2 linked regions of the Homo sapiens genome follow. The protein of the gene in region 1 interacts with the protein of each later gene in a pairwise test. Each region holds a gene or a part of one and is shown on either strand. Other genes may lie near its edges. The genes, in order: SPIN3 and SPINDOC.

Region 1 (8,706 bases):
TTATAAAATTAATAAAAATAATACACCTCAATAGGATGAAGGGAAAAAAATGATTATCTCAATTGACACAAGAAAGCATTTGACAAAATCCAACACCCTCTAATAATAATAATAATAAACCTGTCAACAAACTAGGAATAGAAGGGAACTTCTTCAAGATAAGAGACATATATGCATTAAAAAAAGAGCTAAATTCACATTCAACAGGGAAAGGCTGAAACCTCTCCCCCTAAGTATAAGAAGAGGACAAGAATGCCCCCTCACTATTTCCATTCAGCATTGTACTGCAGTAGGTTCTAGACAGGGCAATCAAGTAAGAAAATAAGTAAATAAAAGTTATCCATATTAGGAAAATGTAAAACTATCTTTATTTACTGATAATACCATTGTATATAGAGATGATCCCAAAGAATCCATTAGTAACTACTGAAATGATTAAAAGGATTCAGTCAAATTTCAGGACATGCTATGGATTGAATGTTTGTGGCCCTGTCCCCTAAATGTATATGTTAAAGCCTAATCTCCAGTGTGATAATATTTGAAGATGGAGCCTTTGGGAGATAATTAGGTCATGAGGGTAGAGCCCCTATGGATGGGATTAATGCTCTTATAAGAAGTAGCCAGAGAGCTAGCTCTCTCTCTGCTCTCCACCATGTGAGGGTATAATGAGAAGATAGCCATTTGGAACCAGAAAGAGGGCCTATCCCCAGGGAACGAAATTGGCCTGTACTTCTTATCTTGGACTTATCTGGAGACCCAGTCTCCAGAACTGTGAGAAATATATGTTTATTGTTTCAGCCACTCATTCTATGGTAATTTGTTATAACAGCCTGAACTAAGACAAGATACAATATCAAGGCTTAAAAATCATGAGGGCTCAATCCCACAAGACTGCCCTGCACTTTAGATGCCAATTACAAGTTCCAGATTATGATCTGTACTTCTAACAGACCAACTATAAATCAGGGTTCTCATTCAATTAATTTGCTAGAGCAGCTCACAGAACTCAGGGAAACACTTTACTTACATTTACCCATTTATTGTAAAGGATATTACAAAAGATACAGATGAACACCCAGAAGGAAGAGATACATTGGGCAAGGTATGTGGAATGGGGTACCAAACTTCCATGCCCTGTTCAAGTGAGCCACCCTTCAGGAACCTCCACGTGTTCAGCTATCCCAAAGCTCTCTCTTTTTTTTTTAATTTTATTATTATTATACTTTAAGTTTTAGGGCACATGTGCACAATGTGCAGGTTAGTTACATATGTATACATGTGCCATGCTGGTGTGCTGCACCCATTAACTCGTCATTTAGCATTAGGTATATCTCCTAATGCTATCCCTCCCCCCTCCCCCCACCCCACAACAGTCTCCAGAGTGTGATGTTCCCCTTCCTGTGTCCATGTGTTCTCATTGTTCAATTCCCACCTATGAGTGAGAATATGCGGTGTTTGGTTTTTTGTTCTTGCGATAGTTTACTGAGAATGATGATTTCCAATTTCATCCATGTCCCTACAAAGGACATGAACTCATCATTTTTTATGGCTGCATAGTATTTCATGGTGTATATGTGCCACATTTTCTTAATCCAGTCTATCATTTTTGGACATTTGGGTTGGTTCCAAGTCTTTGCTATTGTGAATAGTGCCGCAATAAACATACATGTGCATGTGTCTTTATAGCAGCATGATTTATAGTCCTTTGGGTATATACCCAGTAATGGCATGGCTGGGTCAAATGGTATTTCTAGTTCTAGATCCCTGAGGAATCACCACACTGACTTCCACAAGGGTTGAACTAGTTTACAGTCCCACCAACAGTGTAAAAGTGTTCCTATTTCTCCACATCCTCTCTAGCACCTGTTGTTTCCTGACTTTTTAATGATTGCCATTCTAACTGGTGTGAGATGGTATCTCATTGTGGTTTTGATTTGCATTTCTCTGATGGCCAGTGATGGTGAGCATTTTTTCATGTGTTTTTTTGGCTGCATAAATGTCTTCTTTTGAGAAGTGTCTGTTCATGTCCTTTGCCCACTTTTTGATGGGGTTGTTTGTTTTTTTCTTGTAAATTTGTTTGAGTTCATTGTAGATTCTGGATATTAGCCCTTTGTCAGATGAGTAGGTTGCGAAAATTTTCTCCCATTCTGTAGGTTGCCTGTTCACTCTGATGGTAGTTTCTTTTGCTGTGCAGAAGCTCTTTAGTTTAATTAGATCCCATTTGTCAATTTTGGCTTCTGTTGCCATTGCTTTTGGTGTTTTAGACATGAAGTCCTTGCCCATGCCTGTGTCCTGAATGGTAATGGCTAGGTTTTCTTCTAGGGTTTTTATGGTTTTTAGGTCTAACATTTAAGTCTTTAATCCATCTTGAATTAATTTTTGTATAAGGTGTAAAGAAGGGATCCAGTTTCAGCTTTCTACATATGGCTAGCCAGTTTTCCCAGCACCTTTTATTAAATAGGGAATCCTTTCCCCATTGCTTGTTTTTGTCAGGTTTGTCAAAGATCATATAGTTCTAGATATGCTTCCAAAGCTCTCTTAACCTTGTTATTTTGGGTTCTTATGAAGGCTTCATTATGTAGACATCATGAGCCATTGGTGATCGATTCAACCTTTAACTCCTCTCTGCTCCAATCTTCTAATCATGCCCTGGTCTTTGCCGTGAACAGCCCACATCCTGAAGCTATCTAGGGGCTGCCAATCATCAGTCATCTTATTAGCATACAAAAGACACTCTTATCTCTCAGGATACTTCAAGGGTTTTAGGGGCTGTATGCCAGAAAAGGAGATCAAAGAGCAAATATATATTTCACAATATCACAGTAAACAATTCCATTTACCATAGCGTCAAAAATAATAAAATAACTTAGAAATAAATCTAACCAAAACTATAAAACATTGCTGAAATAATTTAAAGAAGATCTAAATAAATTGCAAGATACCCAGTGTTCATAGGAAACTCTGTTTGTGGGAAATTATGCCCTCTGGAAACTCTGTGTTCATGGATTGTAAGACAATATTGTTGAGATAACAATACTTCCCAAGTTTATCTGCAGAGTCAGTGCAACCCTTATCAAAATCCCAACAGTCCTTTTGTTCAGAAAAGGAAAAGACAATCCTAAAATTCATATGAAATTGAAAGGAACTATGAAATTAGCTGAGCATGGTGGTACATGCCTGTAACCCCAGATACTCAGGATGGTGAGACAGGAGAATCGCTTGAACCCGGGAGGTGGAGGTTGCAGTGAGCCGAGATTGTGCCACTGCACTCTAGCCTGGGCGACAGAGCAAGACTCTGTCTCAAAAAAAAAAAAAAAAAAAAAAAAAAAAAAGGAGCATGAGTAGCCAATACAATCTTAATAATATTTTCAGAGAAATCACACTTACTGATTTCAAACATACTGCACAGTTACAGTAATCAAAAAATAAATGTGGTTCTTGCATAAAGATAAATTAAAAACGTGGTTTTTGCATAAAATTCTATGAAATAGAATTAAGAGTCCAGATATAAGCCTATACATCTGTACTAAATTGATTTTCAACAAGTATGCCAAGACAATTAAAAAGGCTAAGAATTGTCTCTTCAACAGAAGGTGCTGAGACAACTGGATATCCATGTGCAAAACAATGAATTTGGTCCCCTTCATCACACCATACATAATAATTAACTCAAAATGGGTCAAAGACATAAATATAAGAGCTAAAAACAAACAAAATTTTACAAGAAAATATAGGGGTACATTTTCATGAACTTGGATTTGGCAGTGTTTATTTAGGTGTGACTCCAAACGCACAACCAAGTTTTAAGCTTTTGTGCATCAAAAATACTATCAAGAAAGTGAAGACACCCCACAAAACGGGATAAAATATTTTCATATCATATATCTGATAAGGTTCTCTCATCCAGAATTTAAAAAGAACAATTAACAGCCCTGCTACAAACAATTCATTTAAAAAATGAACAAAGCACTTGAAATAGACATTTCTCCAAAGATACACAAATGTCCAACAAGCACACAAAAAGATGCTCATCCTCATTAGTCATTAGAGAAATGCAAATTAAAACCACAATTAGGTACCACTTCATACCCACTAGGATGGCTGTAACGATAAAACTGATTGAATCACTTCTAAAATGTCTTTCTCCACAGATTTATGATCTCACAAATTCCTGTTTTAATTATAGCAATTGTTCTAAGTTTAGTGTCTAGGTTATTCTGTTCAAGTGAACAGAATAATTCATGCGCAAGCACAATTTATAGGTATTTAACAATTAAACGTCTGAAGATAGGAGGCAACGGCAAAATTATGAAAAATCCTAATGCTTAATTTTATGAAGCTACTACAAAACATGTTCTCAGAAAATATCTAAAAAATTGAGCAAATGTTTATTCTACATGGAAATGAGCAGGACATGAAAGTGCATATTCAAAATTATCCAAGCTTTGTAAGAGCTTAGAAAAAAGGAAAAGGAAATAGTGTTAATATTTCACTGTGAGCCCTGGAAAATGGGAGGCCGGCTTAGTTAATTATTTTCTCTTCATGTCAATTTTCTGAATTTTACAGTGTCAATATTGTGCATGCAATTCTTTTGCAATCAGGGGAAAAGAAAAGAAATCCTCAAGAAGTTAAGTCTGGGAATGACAAGTCAGTAAAAATTACGTAGATTGGGTCAAGATGGCAGCCTGAACACTGAGCAGTAGCGCATTTCTCTTGTCCTACCACAAATCCCCTTCAATGGAGGGTGGGGGGACGCGGGGAGGGAGGGGAAAGGAAAGGGCTAATTCCTGAAAGGTGGAAAGCAGAAGGGGCAGGGGCGCAGAGGGTTGAGGTTAGGTGAGGGGAGGGGCGCGTGCTAAACCAGAAGAGGTAAACCAATGCAGTGAGAGAGAGGTGGTTGTGGGCTCCACAGCTTCTGATTTGGAGGAAGCTGCGAGACCGAGAGCCTAGGAGCACCTTCCACGCCCAGGGCTGTGGTACAGGTTGGTGGGGGAGGGGCGCCACGCGGTGTTTGGCAGGAAGGGGAGGCCTCTCTACTGACCGGAAGCTGCGCTAGAAAAAGAAGGAGGAGACTGCGGCGCAGCAGCGACTAGTGGGAGTCCGATGTGGGAGAGGGGCTGCGGCCACCGCCACCGCCGCCGCCACCAGGAAGGCGGAGGACGCAGGAGCCAAGAGCAAGGGACGCCGCCACGGTCATCTTCGCCTGCCCCGCCGCCCTCTTAGAGACACTCATTGCCTATGGATCATCCTCTCCCAGCTTTTGCAAGCACCGGGCTGCTCGCCCGCTGATTTTCCTCCTCCATAGGCTCACTGCGGAGGCAACGGCGAGGTGTCCGATTTGTGCACTTGAGGCCCGCAATCCGGGACGGTGGGGAATCTGCGCCTCCTGGCCGGGTAGTGTTGGAAGCAGGGCGAGGGGAATGGGGAAACGCTTCGTATTTCACCGAACCGCAGATCTTAGCCAGACTGAGCTGGGGAGGAAGGTTACTGCAGGCACTCAGCCAGGGTGCCTTGATTTCCAGCTTTGCTATCTAGCTTTCGGGAAAAACAGGTGTGGGTTTACTGGGTGCGCTGATTAGGAGAAAAAGCTCTCCGTGTTATGCATTGATTTTGTTAATTTCCTTTCTCGGTCCACCTGGCAACTGTGCTCCTCTTCGCAGGCATGAAGACCCCGTTTGGAAAGGCAGCTGCAGGGCAGCGGTCCAGGACGGGCGCTGGCCACGGCAGTGTGTCTGTTACCATGATAAAGAGGAAGGCTGCACACAAGAAGCATAGGAGCCGACCCACCTCCCAGCCTCGGGGGAACATCGTGGGCTGCAGAATTCAGCACGGATGGAAAGATGGAGATGAACCTCTAACACAGTGGAAAGGAACCGTTCTGGATCAGGTACCTGTAAATCCCTCTCTGTATCTTATCAAATATGATGGATTTGACTGTGTTTATGGATTGGAACTTCACAGAGATGAAAGAGTGTCATCACTTGAAGTCCTTCCTAATAGAGTTGCATCATCTAGAATCAGTGATACACACTTGGCAGAAATAATGGTTGGCAAAGCAGTGGAACATATTTTTGAGACAGAGGAAGGTTCCAAAAATGAATGGAGGGGGATGGTCTTAGCTCAGGCACCTGTCATGAACACATGGTTTTACATTACCTATGAGAAAGATCCTGTATTATATATGTACCAGCTCTTAGATGATTATAAAGATGGTGACCTCCGCATCCTTCAAGATTCCAATGATTCTCCTCTGGCAGAGAGGGAGCCAGGAGAAGTCATAGACAGCCTGGTAGGCAAACAGGTGGAATACGCCAAAGACGATGGCTCCAAGAGAACTGGCATGGTCATTCATCAGGTAGAAGCAAAACCCTCTGTGTACTTCATCAAATTTGATGATGATTTCCATATCTATGTCTACGATTTGGTAAAAACATCTTAGAGGTCATCTTGAAATTTGCCAAATATATGAGACTCTAAATCTGTAGACACAGAAAGTCTTGATTGCTTTCCAGTTTGTAAGAACCATCTTCTCCCTTTTTGCACGTTTTGCTTGGCAAAAAAATTGGAACTTCTGCCCTCTCATACGTTTTTGGAAGAAACCTTTTGCCCATCTGTCCAACCTTTTCACTGGTTCCTCTCCGCAATTTAACTGATTAGTGAGAAGGGTAAAGTCTGACATCCATTGGCTCATACTTTTTTTTATCTTGGGTGGTGTTAATAGATTAAAGGTAGCTGAACACCTCTCACCTCACTCTTTTTGGCACTTGGACTCTACACTCATTGAGGTGTGAAGCTTGCTGAGATATCCCATGTGACTGGCTGGGTAAGTGTCTTTGCAATCTCAAATCTCCCCCAAGTGGCTTCAAAAATCTAACTTGGGAAAGAGTGGGAAGCCCATTTTGGTCTCTTGTTCAAGTTGCATTCTCAGTTCTAACTGTACTAAAAGTAAGGCTAATAATTTTGCTCTCTTTCCGGTTCTTTCACCTATTGCTCAACTGTTTTAGAATTAAGAAGGTAATTACTTTGCATTTTAGTACCTAACCATAGGCTGAGAAACCTTGCAAAACTGATAAGAAGACAAGCATTTGGGGACCAAACTCCAAGTGGAGAGATCAAGATTTCTGGTGGAGCTTAAGTGAAAGGTTTTAGTCATCAGTGGCATTAGGGTCTCTCTTGTCTCCAATAGCTCTGGCTGGTATCTGCAGACATGGAGTAGGTTTTAACTGATAGAAGCTGTGCAGGCAGACTTTAGCACAAATGGTCTTTGCCAGCCCAGAGGAGCATTAAGCCAGGCTCTAGCTAGAGCCCTCAGTCACAGGCAAAGGCTGGGTTTGGCTGGGTTTGGACAGATCTGTCCAGAACCTCAAAATGAAAGAGGAGAAACCTAGAATCAAACTGAGATACAGATTTCTTTGCTGTGCTAAGAGAGACTCAAGTTTTAGATTTGATTCTTAGGAGACTGAATTCAGAGTCCCAGCATGTGAGGTGGGCAAGGCACTTGTGAGAACCAAGAATGGCTGAAAGCAGGCTATACTTCCTTGCAGGGACTGGTGGGCTCATCTATTATGGTATCCCAGCAGGACTTGGAACACAGTCAGTGGTAGGTAATCTGTAGGCTTAATGATGTTTTAAGTGCTGGCATTGGTAGATAGAAATCTAATAGATTTTTGTTAGTGTTTGGATTTTTAACTATCCTGTTTCTTGGCTGGCCCTAAGAAACTTATATGCAGATAAGGGTGAGTTCTACTGTGGCAGAAAAGTAAACAATGGAAGGGCCTTTGAGCTTTCCATTATTAAAGAGCCATTGGCGGAGGTTAACCAAAGCCTAGGAAAGAAAAGTTGAAGTACAAGCATGGTTTTTGAGAGAAGCACCTGGCCAAAACCAAAGCTTTCTCATTGAGGTTCTCACAGAAGCTCCATTAGCAGTAACAGCCTAATAAGGCCATGGAGTTCTGCACATTTGGGGCTGGGACTCAAGGCAGTACAATCATATTGGGACTGTACTGCAAGATATCTTCCAAATTAGTTTAAGTTCACAGGTCATGGAGTCCAGACTACCGGCACAGATTGGCATCCTGCTGAGGATGAAACAAAGAAGATGTTCTCTTTTCTCCTATGTTTTATCTGTCTACTTTTGCTTTTTGATGCCACTAAGTCTCTACTATGATGTTTGACTGACAACAGCAATGTGGGTCTGTATTGCCCTATGTTCTAAGTCCTGGGGTCATATATTTGCTTAAAAAAACTGTTCTAGTGGCTGGGGACTAGTGTGCTTTCTAATTTTTTTGATGTGAGGTTGATATTGTGATAATCTTATGTCTTCTTGACCCTTTGGACTCTTTAATATGTATGACATGCAATTGTGGGGTTAGATTAATTCAACTCCTGAGGTCCTGAAGGAACTTCACCCAGTCAAGAGGAAGACAGCCAAGGCTGCAGCTGCTGAAGGAACCCCATATCTGGGCAGACATCTTTGTGAGATCTATATGGCTGAAATGAGAAAAACGAGAAATTGGGAAAGGCAGAATTTTGGACTTTAATTATTTTGGACTTTGAATTAGAAATTTAATTTTGGGCAGTCCTTTTTCCCTTGGAGTTTAATAGTTGATGGGGTGGGGGTGAGGTCATATAGTTCAAACTAAGGCATTTTTATTATGTTGTTGATATTGTATTATTTGGAGTATTTTAATGCTATCTTTGGGAGTC
Region 2 (8,817 bases), on another chromosome or scaffold:
GGCTCAAGCAATCCTCCTGCTTCAGCCTCCCAAAGTGCTGGGATTATAGGCATGAGCCACCATGCCCGTTCTAAAGGCCACCCCATCCCCTCAGAACTCGCCTCCCTTCTCAGTGCTCACAGAGCATTTACAGCCATGGTCCCACTCCTATTGCTGCCTGATACCTGCTCTTTGTGTACACAGACAGACCATAAGCTTTCACAGGGCATCACCCTTTCCAGTTCAGCAAAGAAGGCAGCCTTAGACCTGCATCAGCCTGGAAGCTCAGTGCTTTTACGAAGTGCCCATGATCCTTCACGGCTGCATCTCCCTCCTACCTTCCAGAGAGGATGGGACAAAATTAAAACACAGGAGGCCCTAATACCTGGGGGCTGCATGGAAGAGGTGGTATGAGAAATAGGAGCCTCGGCTTGCATGGATACAAGAGGTGGTGTCTGAAAGAGATACGAGATATGTCTTGTACCTATCTCTCATGCGACCATGGGCAGAAATGACCTCTCAGTTGCAATCAGCTTTCTTCCCTACTAGTCTTCCAAAACAGCTCTCATCCAAGTCAGCAGTGCTAAACTCTGCGGTCAGTTTCTCAACTTCATCCTCTGCCGATCACCTCTTCCATCTTGATTTTCATCACTTGCGTCTAGGGCATGACCTTCTGTTGGTTCTTCTTTTGCTTCCCTGGCCCTCTTTCTCAGTTATGTGTGCTAGTTCTTCCTCATCTCTTCTCAATATTCCCTCCCTTCCTCTGGCTTGTTGCTGAAGACCATCTCCCCTCACTAGAGCACCCCATTCCCCTTATGCATCACCTCCAACACAGCACACATCACCACCTGGCACTTGTTTTTGGGATGTTCACTGCCTGTCTCCTTACCACACCATAGCATCCATGACCACGGCCAGGTGCGGTGGCTCACGCCTGAATCCTAGCACTTTGGGAGGCCGAGGTGGGCGGATCACCTGAGGTTGAGAGTTCAAGACCAACCCCACCAACATGGGGAAACCCTATCTCTATTAAAAATACAAAATTAGCTGGGCGTGGTGGCACATGCCTATAATCCCAGTTACTCGGGAGGTTGAGGCAGAAGAATCACTTGAACCCGGGAGGCGAAGGTTGCAGTGAGCCGAGATTGTGCCATTGCACTACAGCTTGGGCAAAAAGAGCAAAACTCCGTCTCAAAAAAAAAAAAAAAATCCATGACCATACAGATTTCTGATGTTTTGCATCTGTATCTCCAGCATCTGTATCTGTATCTCCTCGCATGCAGTGGCATTTAGTAATGTGTGATGAGGGACTGACTCGGTCTCCAACCTGCCATCACTGGAGTTTCCCAGGACTCAGTCCTTAGACACTTCTCTACTTCCTTCTCTTCCCACTGTCTGCCTGCTGGCAATTTCTGTTTACGCCACTAGCTAGATACTTCCAGGAAATCTAGGCCCATGTATCTGACTGCTTAGTTGACCTCTCCACCTGAATATGTCATAAATAGGCATCTCAAACGTAATCATATTCAAACTTTCACTCCCAGTCTCCCAAGAGCACCGCAGCCTTCCCCATCTCGGAAAATGGGAAGGCTCTTCCTCCAGTTGCTCAGGCCAAAAACCTTGAATTCAATCTTTCTTCCTCTCTCCACCGAAATCTTTCCAGAAGCTTGTGCTGCCGGACCTTTGCACTTGCTATTCGGCCTGAAATGCTCTTCCTGCAGATATCTGCAAGGTTGGCATCCTCACTTCCTTCGGGTCTGTGCTCAAAATTCACCTTATTAGAAAACCCTTTCTGAACCACTCGATATATTCAATTAAATACCCATTCCTCCTCTTTCTCCTTTTCCTGCTTTAGTGATCTCTGAACCATTTATTGCCACCCAACATACTATACATGAACCTATTTCTCTGTCTTTAGCCATTGGTATATATATGTTCTTCAAGAGCAGGGTTTCGGTTGCTCTGTTTACTACTACTTCCCAGCCTAAAAACACTAGCCTAAACAGCCTAAAGTAGACGTCCAGTGAATATTGGTTGAATGAATTCACCTGTCTATTCCTGCCCTAACAGTGGGGATAAGGCCACCCTTGCAGGGTTGAGAGGATTAACTGAGACAGCCTCTGACAATGCCCAATGAACACTCAACAAATATTAGCAGAAGTAGGAAAACAACCTATCTTTTGGACTAAATGCTCCGAGAAGGGAGGTGACCTTTATTTCCCTCATGAATTTTATAACCCTTCCAGTTCCAAAAAGGATGACAGGCAGTGCAGGCAGACATCATTCTGTTCGGCTGAAGTTCAATGAATGGCATTGCTGCTCTCAACCTCTTTTGGGTACTATCCCGCCTAAGAAAAGCGGGGTGGGAGAATGGAAATATATTTGCATTTTCATGCATATTAAGTCTCCCACAAAGATGGCTCTTTGTTTTCTTACGGTTTGCAAGCTCCTGAGGACTAGAAATCGGTGAAGGGGGAGGGGAGAGCGAGTGTTCTGAGATTGTTCCTCCCATCCCCTCCCAAAGCTAATCTCGTTCTAGCACTGCACTGCTTTTCCAAACTAGCTGTTGTATGCAGTCCCATTCATCCCTTCTCTCCAGAACTTGACACCTGTGGCTCCTGCAAGTGGAAGGCCCGGGAATGGGAATGAAGCGGGGTGGTGGGCAGGGAAGCGTTATGCTCGGAGAGCCCTTAAAATTCTCCTGGAGGTCGGCAGCGGCGCCCGCCTGTAGCCTCCGGCCTAGAGGCTTCGCCGCCCCTCGGACTAGAACACAGCCCGGCCGTTGTGCTTGCCTCCCCTTCCCAGGCTGTGAGACGGCGGCCGCAACCACCCAGCGCCTCTGGGGATCCGGCCTCTGGTGCTGGGCCCGGGAGAGGGGGCGCTTGGGCACCGGAAGATCCGGAGCGTGCGGGGCGTGGATCGAAGTCTCCAGACCCTGGGCGGGGGAAAGGGGAAGGGAGGGGGAAATCGAGGAGGCCTGAGCTTCTAAACCATGGTGGGGGAGGTGCAAGAGCGCGCCCTGGACCCAGATCCGAGAGGGAAACCTGGGCCCCAAGGCTGAAGGGGGTGAGAAGGTGCCCGGGTCCCGGACCCCGACTGGGGAGGGACGGCCCCAGCCCCGGCCCCGCACCGTGACGCGGAAGTGGAATCCCCTCCATCCTCACCTCTGAGCATCGGCTCGGGCCGCGGAATTACGGCCACCACCATGGCCTCCTCCTCGTCCTCCCCTTCCTCGCATTTCAGCGTCACCTCGAAGCAGTCGAGTGCGGCGCCCTCGGCCTTTAGGGCCATGGTGCGGCCGTGGGCGATAGCAGTGGCCGGAGGACTGGCGCGCAGGCTTCGGCGCGCAGCCGGCAACCGCCTCCCGCCTCCTGGCCGGAATAGCGCCGGGCCCGCCGCCCGCCCCGCGCAGCCCCCTCCCCGCCGCCCGCCCGCCGCTCGCCGGCCGGGCCTGCGACCGGCGCGTCCGGGCCTCCCCGAGACCTCGGCGCGTCGGGAGCCCGGGCGGGGAGGGCTCAATCCGGGGCCCCTGCCCCCCGCCGCTCCCTTTTATGGAGGCTCATTGTCGGCGCCCGCCCGGCCGGCCAGCCGCGGACCCGCCCCCGATGCCGCGCGGCCAATCGCGCGTGGCCCCGCCCCGGGCACGCGGCCCCGTTAGAAACCCTGGACCCGGGAGGCGGCGGGAAGGGCCGAGGGGACCCGGGGCCACCCGGTGCGCAGAGGCAGAGGGGCCCCCAAAACCCGCAACGCGGGCCCCTCAGTCTGCGGGCCAAGCCCGGGGTTTCCCTCCATTAAGAAGTCAGTTGGGCGTTTCTGCTGGCGTGGAGAGCGCTACCAGGTGCCCCCGGATTTTGATCGGGAGTCGCTTTTGCCTTTCCGTGGACAAGCCTTCCTCCGCCAGCAGATGCCCCGGGCAGGAAGAGAAGCGGTGGGTGAGTGGAAAGGGCCTTGGTATGGAAACGCAGAGACCGAATTCCTTCTCATCTGCCAGCTCCGTGGCCGTGGGCACATTATCTGTTTTCTTAGTCCGGCTCATCGTTTCTTTCAAAAACCATTTTGGACCCTTCTGGGAAGGCAAAGAAGAGAAGCAGAGTGGACTGTGAGCGGACATAAACCACCCTGATGGGTATGATTTCCATTTTTGGCACGGGAGTCCGGAGATTTTGTGACCCTCTCCAAGGACACACAGCAATCCCTTGAGAGCCCCAAGACCAGAGTCCAGTTGCCATGACATTGCTGCCCTATAACCACACTCTGGGTGAGCTTTTACTTCTGTGACATGGAATGTGCATCTCCCTCTTCTATAGCAACCCTCATGAGATTTCAGCTCAGAAAATGCAAAATGTCTGACACTGAAAATCCATCTTCGAATGTCGTTATATCAGACCAGACACAGTAGTATTCAGAATCGCGTAGTAGGATGGGGGTGTGAGAAGAGGTGTGAACTAGTCTATATGGATTGCAGTCAATTTTTTAATTTTTTTTTTTTTGAGACAGAGTCTCGCTCTGTCACCAGGCTGGAGTGCAGTGGCGCTATCTCGGCTCACCACAACCTCCGCCTCCCAGGTTCAAGCTATTCTCCCGCCTCAGCCTCCTGGGTAGCTGGGACTACAGGCACGTGCCACCATGCCCGGCTAATTTTTGTATTTTTAGTAGAGACGGGGTTTCAGCATGTTGGCCAGGATGGTCTTGATCTCTTGACCTCATCATCCGTCTGCCTCGGCCTCCCAAAGTGGGATTACAGGCGTGAGCCACCGCGCCTGGCCTTGCAGTCTATTTTTAAGGGAATTATTTTGTTATGTGCAAGTGTATCTGATATTTTAAAGGTTTTACAACAAAGGTATTACCAAGCCTGTTTAACTATTTCTGCTGAATGGTCATTCTCTACCATTTGCTACAGATCCCTTCCGTGCCCCTCTGCTCTGCTCTGTATTGCAGTGGGCTGAGTCTTGCGGGGGGCAGTTTCTCAGGCTCCCAGAGCATCTGGCTTCAGGCCTCGGTTTAGCCAATGGGAGGCAGTGGCAGGAGAAGAGAAGGCAGGAGGAAAGAAAGAGCCATGGTATTTCTTCTCTTTCTCTCTCTTGCTCAGGCTCAGGTGACATCTCCAGCAGCAGATGAGGCCTCTCTGTGGCTCCAGCTCATGGATAGGTAGCTGTGGTCCCAACATCTGTAGGATGATCCATGCCCCTGGGCTCTACTCAGTCCACCTCCTCTTTTTGTCCCTGCAGGTTAGGAGTTGTAGGCAGCTTCTTGCTTTTGCCAGTCTCTGTACTGCCTCTCTCTGTCCCCTGCTGGGCTTTCCAGACCTCCCTGTTAACCCCTGTTAATCGTGTCACCAAAACCCTGCATTACATTCTCTCTGTTTTCAATACTTAAAGTGGTTCCCTCCTGGCGGGGCGCAGTGGCTCCCAACTGTAATCCCAGCAGTTTGGGAGGCCAAGGCAGGTGGATCACTTGAGGTCAGGAGTTCGAGACCAGCCTGGCCAACATGGTGAAACCCTGTCTCTACCATAAGAAAAAAGAAAAAAGAAATTAGCCCGGCATGGTGGTGTGTGCCTGTAATCCCAGCTACTTACGAGGTTGAGTCAGGAAGATTGCTTGAGCCCAGGAGGCGGAGGTTGCAGTGAGCCAAGATCATGCCGCTGCACTTGACTCCAGCCTGGGCGACAGAGCTAGATTGTCTCAAAAAAAAAGTGGTTCCTATTTTCCTGGTTGAACCTTGAGTGATACACCCAGTATTGTACCACCCAATTAGTAGACATTATTTCTTTTAGGTCATATTATTCTCAGCTTATAGAGCAAGAAGTTGAAGCTTAAAGGGTTAGATTACTTGCCCAAGGTAATACAGCAAGAATCTTATTTCATCCAACCTAGAGTGAATATTTCCCCCACATTTTAATATCCCTCAAATGGTGATGCTTTCTATAATCAACATCAACGTGAAGTTTAGGACTGAAGTTTAGGACTATCAAGAAAGTGAAAGATGGCTTTTCTGGCATTCAGACTGTGCTGTTACCAGCAGAAAGTAAGCTATGTTTAGAATGAGACATAGATGAAGCCACTTCATGACCACAAAGTGACTTCGCCTTTTTTTTTTTTTTTTTTTTTGAAATGGAGTCTCACTCTGTCACCCAACCTGGAGCGCAGTGGTGCAATCTCGGCTCACTGCAACCTCCGCCTCCCGGGCTCAAGCAATTCTCTGCCTCAGCCTCCCAAGCAGCTGGGATTACAGGCGCCTGCCACCACACTTGGCTAATTTTTGTATTTTTAGTAGAGTCAGGGTTTCACCATCTTGTCCAGGCTGGTCTTGAACTCTGACCTTGTGATCCTCCTGCCTCGGCCTCTCAAAGTGCTGGGATTACAGGCGCGAGCTACTGCTTCCGGCCTTTTTTTTTTTTTTTAAAACGGAGTTTTGTTCTTGTTGCCCAGGCTGGAATGCAATGGCGCAATCTCAGCTCACTACAACCTCCGCCTCCCAGGTTCAAGATTCTCCTGCCTCAGCCTGCCGAGTAGCTGGGATTACAGGCATGCGCCATCACACCTGGCTAATTTTGTATTTTTAGTAGAGACGGGGTTTCTCCATGTTGGTCAGGCTGGTCTCGAACTCCGACCTCAGGTGATCCGCTTGTCTCGGCCTCCCAAAGTGCTGGGATTATAGGTGTGAGCCGCTGCTCCTGGCCGACTTTGCCTTTTTTTAAAAAAAGAATTTTTTTTTTTTTAGAGATGGGGTTTCACCATGTTGTCCAGGCTGGACTCAAGCAATCCACCTGCCTCAGCCTCCCAAAGTGCTGGAAAGTAGGTGTGCGCTACTGTGCCCGGCCTGACTTCACCTTTTTTGGAGCAATTGCTATTTCTCTTTAGCAAAAATTACTGTAGTCCAGGCTGGGCGTGGTGGCTTACACCTGTAATCTCAGCACTTTGGGAGGCCAAGGCGGGCTGATCACTTGAACCCGGGAGGCAGAGGTTGTAGTGAGTCGAGATTGCGCCACCGCAATCCAGCCTGGGTGACAGAGCGAGACTCCATCTCCAAAAAAAAAAAAAAAAAAGATACCCAGTTTCTGAACTGCCCCTGTTTCTTGACAGCATTCAATCCTGAACCAGTTCCATTTCCCTAATTCTTCCATAGAACTATGGGAACGAGGCCAAATTTAAGGAGTTTCCTGAGGGTGCCTTGAGGGTTTCCCTGGGATGTATTCTCCTTCACTGCAGCAAATTAAACCTAATTTTGGTTACAAGTGTGTTCCTGGTGGTCCTTGGTCACAGGGCTTTGACAACCCCAACCAATTTATTTTGCCTACATTTTCATGTATATGAAGAGTGATATATCATGAAAACCTATGTTAAAATATCAACAAATCTAGGGCCAGGTGCAGTGGCTCACACCTATAATCCCAGCACTTTGGGAGGTCAAGGCGGGAGGCCAGGAGTTCGCAACCAGCCTGGCTAACATGTCCAAACCCAGTTGCTACAAAAAATACAAAAATTAGCTGGATGGCTGGGCGTGGTGGCGCACGCCTGTAATCCCAGCACTTTGGGAAGTCAAGGCGGTTGGATCACCTGAGATTCGGAGTTCGAGACCAGCGTGGCCAACATGGTGAAACCCTGTCTCTACTAAAAATGCAAATAATTAGTCGGGTGTGATGGCGGGCACCTGTAATCCCAGCTACTCAGGAGGCAGAGGCAGGAGAATCGCCTGAACCCAGGAGGCGCAGGTTGCAGTGAGCTGAGATTGTGCCATTGTACTGCAGCCTGGGCAACAAGAGGGAAACTCCATCTCAAAAAAAAAAAAAAAAAAAAAATTGCCAGGCACAGTGGCTCATGTCTCTAATCCCAGCACTTTGAGAGGCCGAGGCAGGGGAATCACCTGAGGTCAGCAGTTCGAGACCGTCCTGGCTAACATGGTGAAACCCCATCTCTATTAAAAGTACAAAAAATCAGTCGGGTCTGGTGGTGGGCCCCTGTAATCCCAGCTACTCAGGAGGCTGAGGCAGGAGAATCACTTGAACCCAGGAGGTGGAGCTTGCAGTGAGCTGAGATTGGGCCATTGCACTCCAGGCTGAGCAACAAGAGCAAAACTCTGTCTCAAAAAAAAAAAAGGCCGGGCGTGGTGGCTCATGCTTGTAATCCCAGCACTTTGGGAGGCCGAGGTGGGTGGATCATGAGATCAGGAGATCGAGACCATCCTGGCTAACATGGTGAAACCCCATCTCTACTAAAAATACAAAAAATTAGCTGGGCGTGGTGTCAGGCGCCTGTAGTCCCAGCTACTTGGGAGGCTGAGGCAGGAGAATGGCATGAACCTGGGAGGTGGAGCTTGCAGTGAGCCGATCTCACGCCACTGCACTCCAGCCTGGGCGACAGAGTGAGACTCCGTCTCAAAAAAAAAAAAAAAAAAATTAGCTTGGTGTGGTGGAGTGCCCCTGTAATCCCAGCTACCTTGATGTCTGAGGCATGAGAATCGCTTGAATCTGGGAGTTGGAGGTTGCAGTGATCTGTGATTGTGCTACTGCACTCCTGCCTCGGCACTCCTGCCTCGGTGACAGGGCAAGACTCTGTCTCAAAAAAAAAAAAGAAAAAAAATCTGCAAGTCTAAAAGAGCTCTTTTTTTTGTTGTTGTTGGGACAGAGTCTCACTCTGTCTCCCAGGCTGGAGTACAGTGGCACGATCTCGGCTCACTGCAACCTCCATCTCCCAGGTTTCAGTGACTCTCCCATCTCAGCCTCCTGAGTACCTGTGATTACAGGCGTCCGCCATCACACCCGGCTAATTTTTTGTATTTTTAGTAGAGATGGGGTTTCACCATGTTGGCCAAGCTAATCTCGAACTCCTGATCTCAAG

Evidence for each region.
Region 2: the proteins of SPIN3 (region 1) and SPINDOC interact in binary tests that used the Homo sapiens proteins (3 or more experiments, as listed by UniProt).

The regions. Positions count from the first base shown.
Region 1 is NC_000023.11:56,991,904-57,000,609, reverse strand, and holds the start of SPIN3 (spindlin-3), read left to right. Parts: upstream 1-5,068; 5' UTR 5,069-5,394; exon of another isoform or gene 5,395-5,551; intron 5,552-5,660; 5' UTR 5,661-5,662; coding exon 5,663-6,439; 3' UTR 6,440-8,706. UniProt on the Homo sapiens protein: Exhibits H3K4me3-binding activity.
Region 2 is NC_000011.10:63,808,140-63,816,956, reverse strand, and holds the start of SPINDOC (spindlin interactor and repressor of chromatin-binding protein), read right to left. Parts: upstream 3,502-8,817; 5' UTR 3,271-3,501; coding exon 3,144-3,270; intron 1-3,143. UniProt on the Homo sapiens protein: Chromatin protein that stabilizes SPIN1 and enhances its association with histone H3 trimethylated at both 'Lys-4' and 'Lys-9' (H3K4me3K9me3).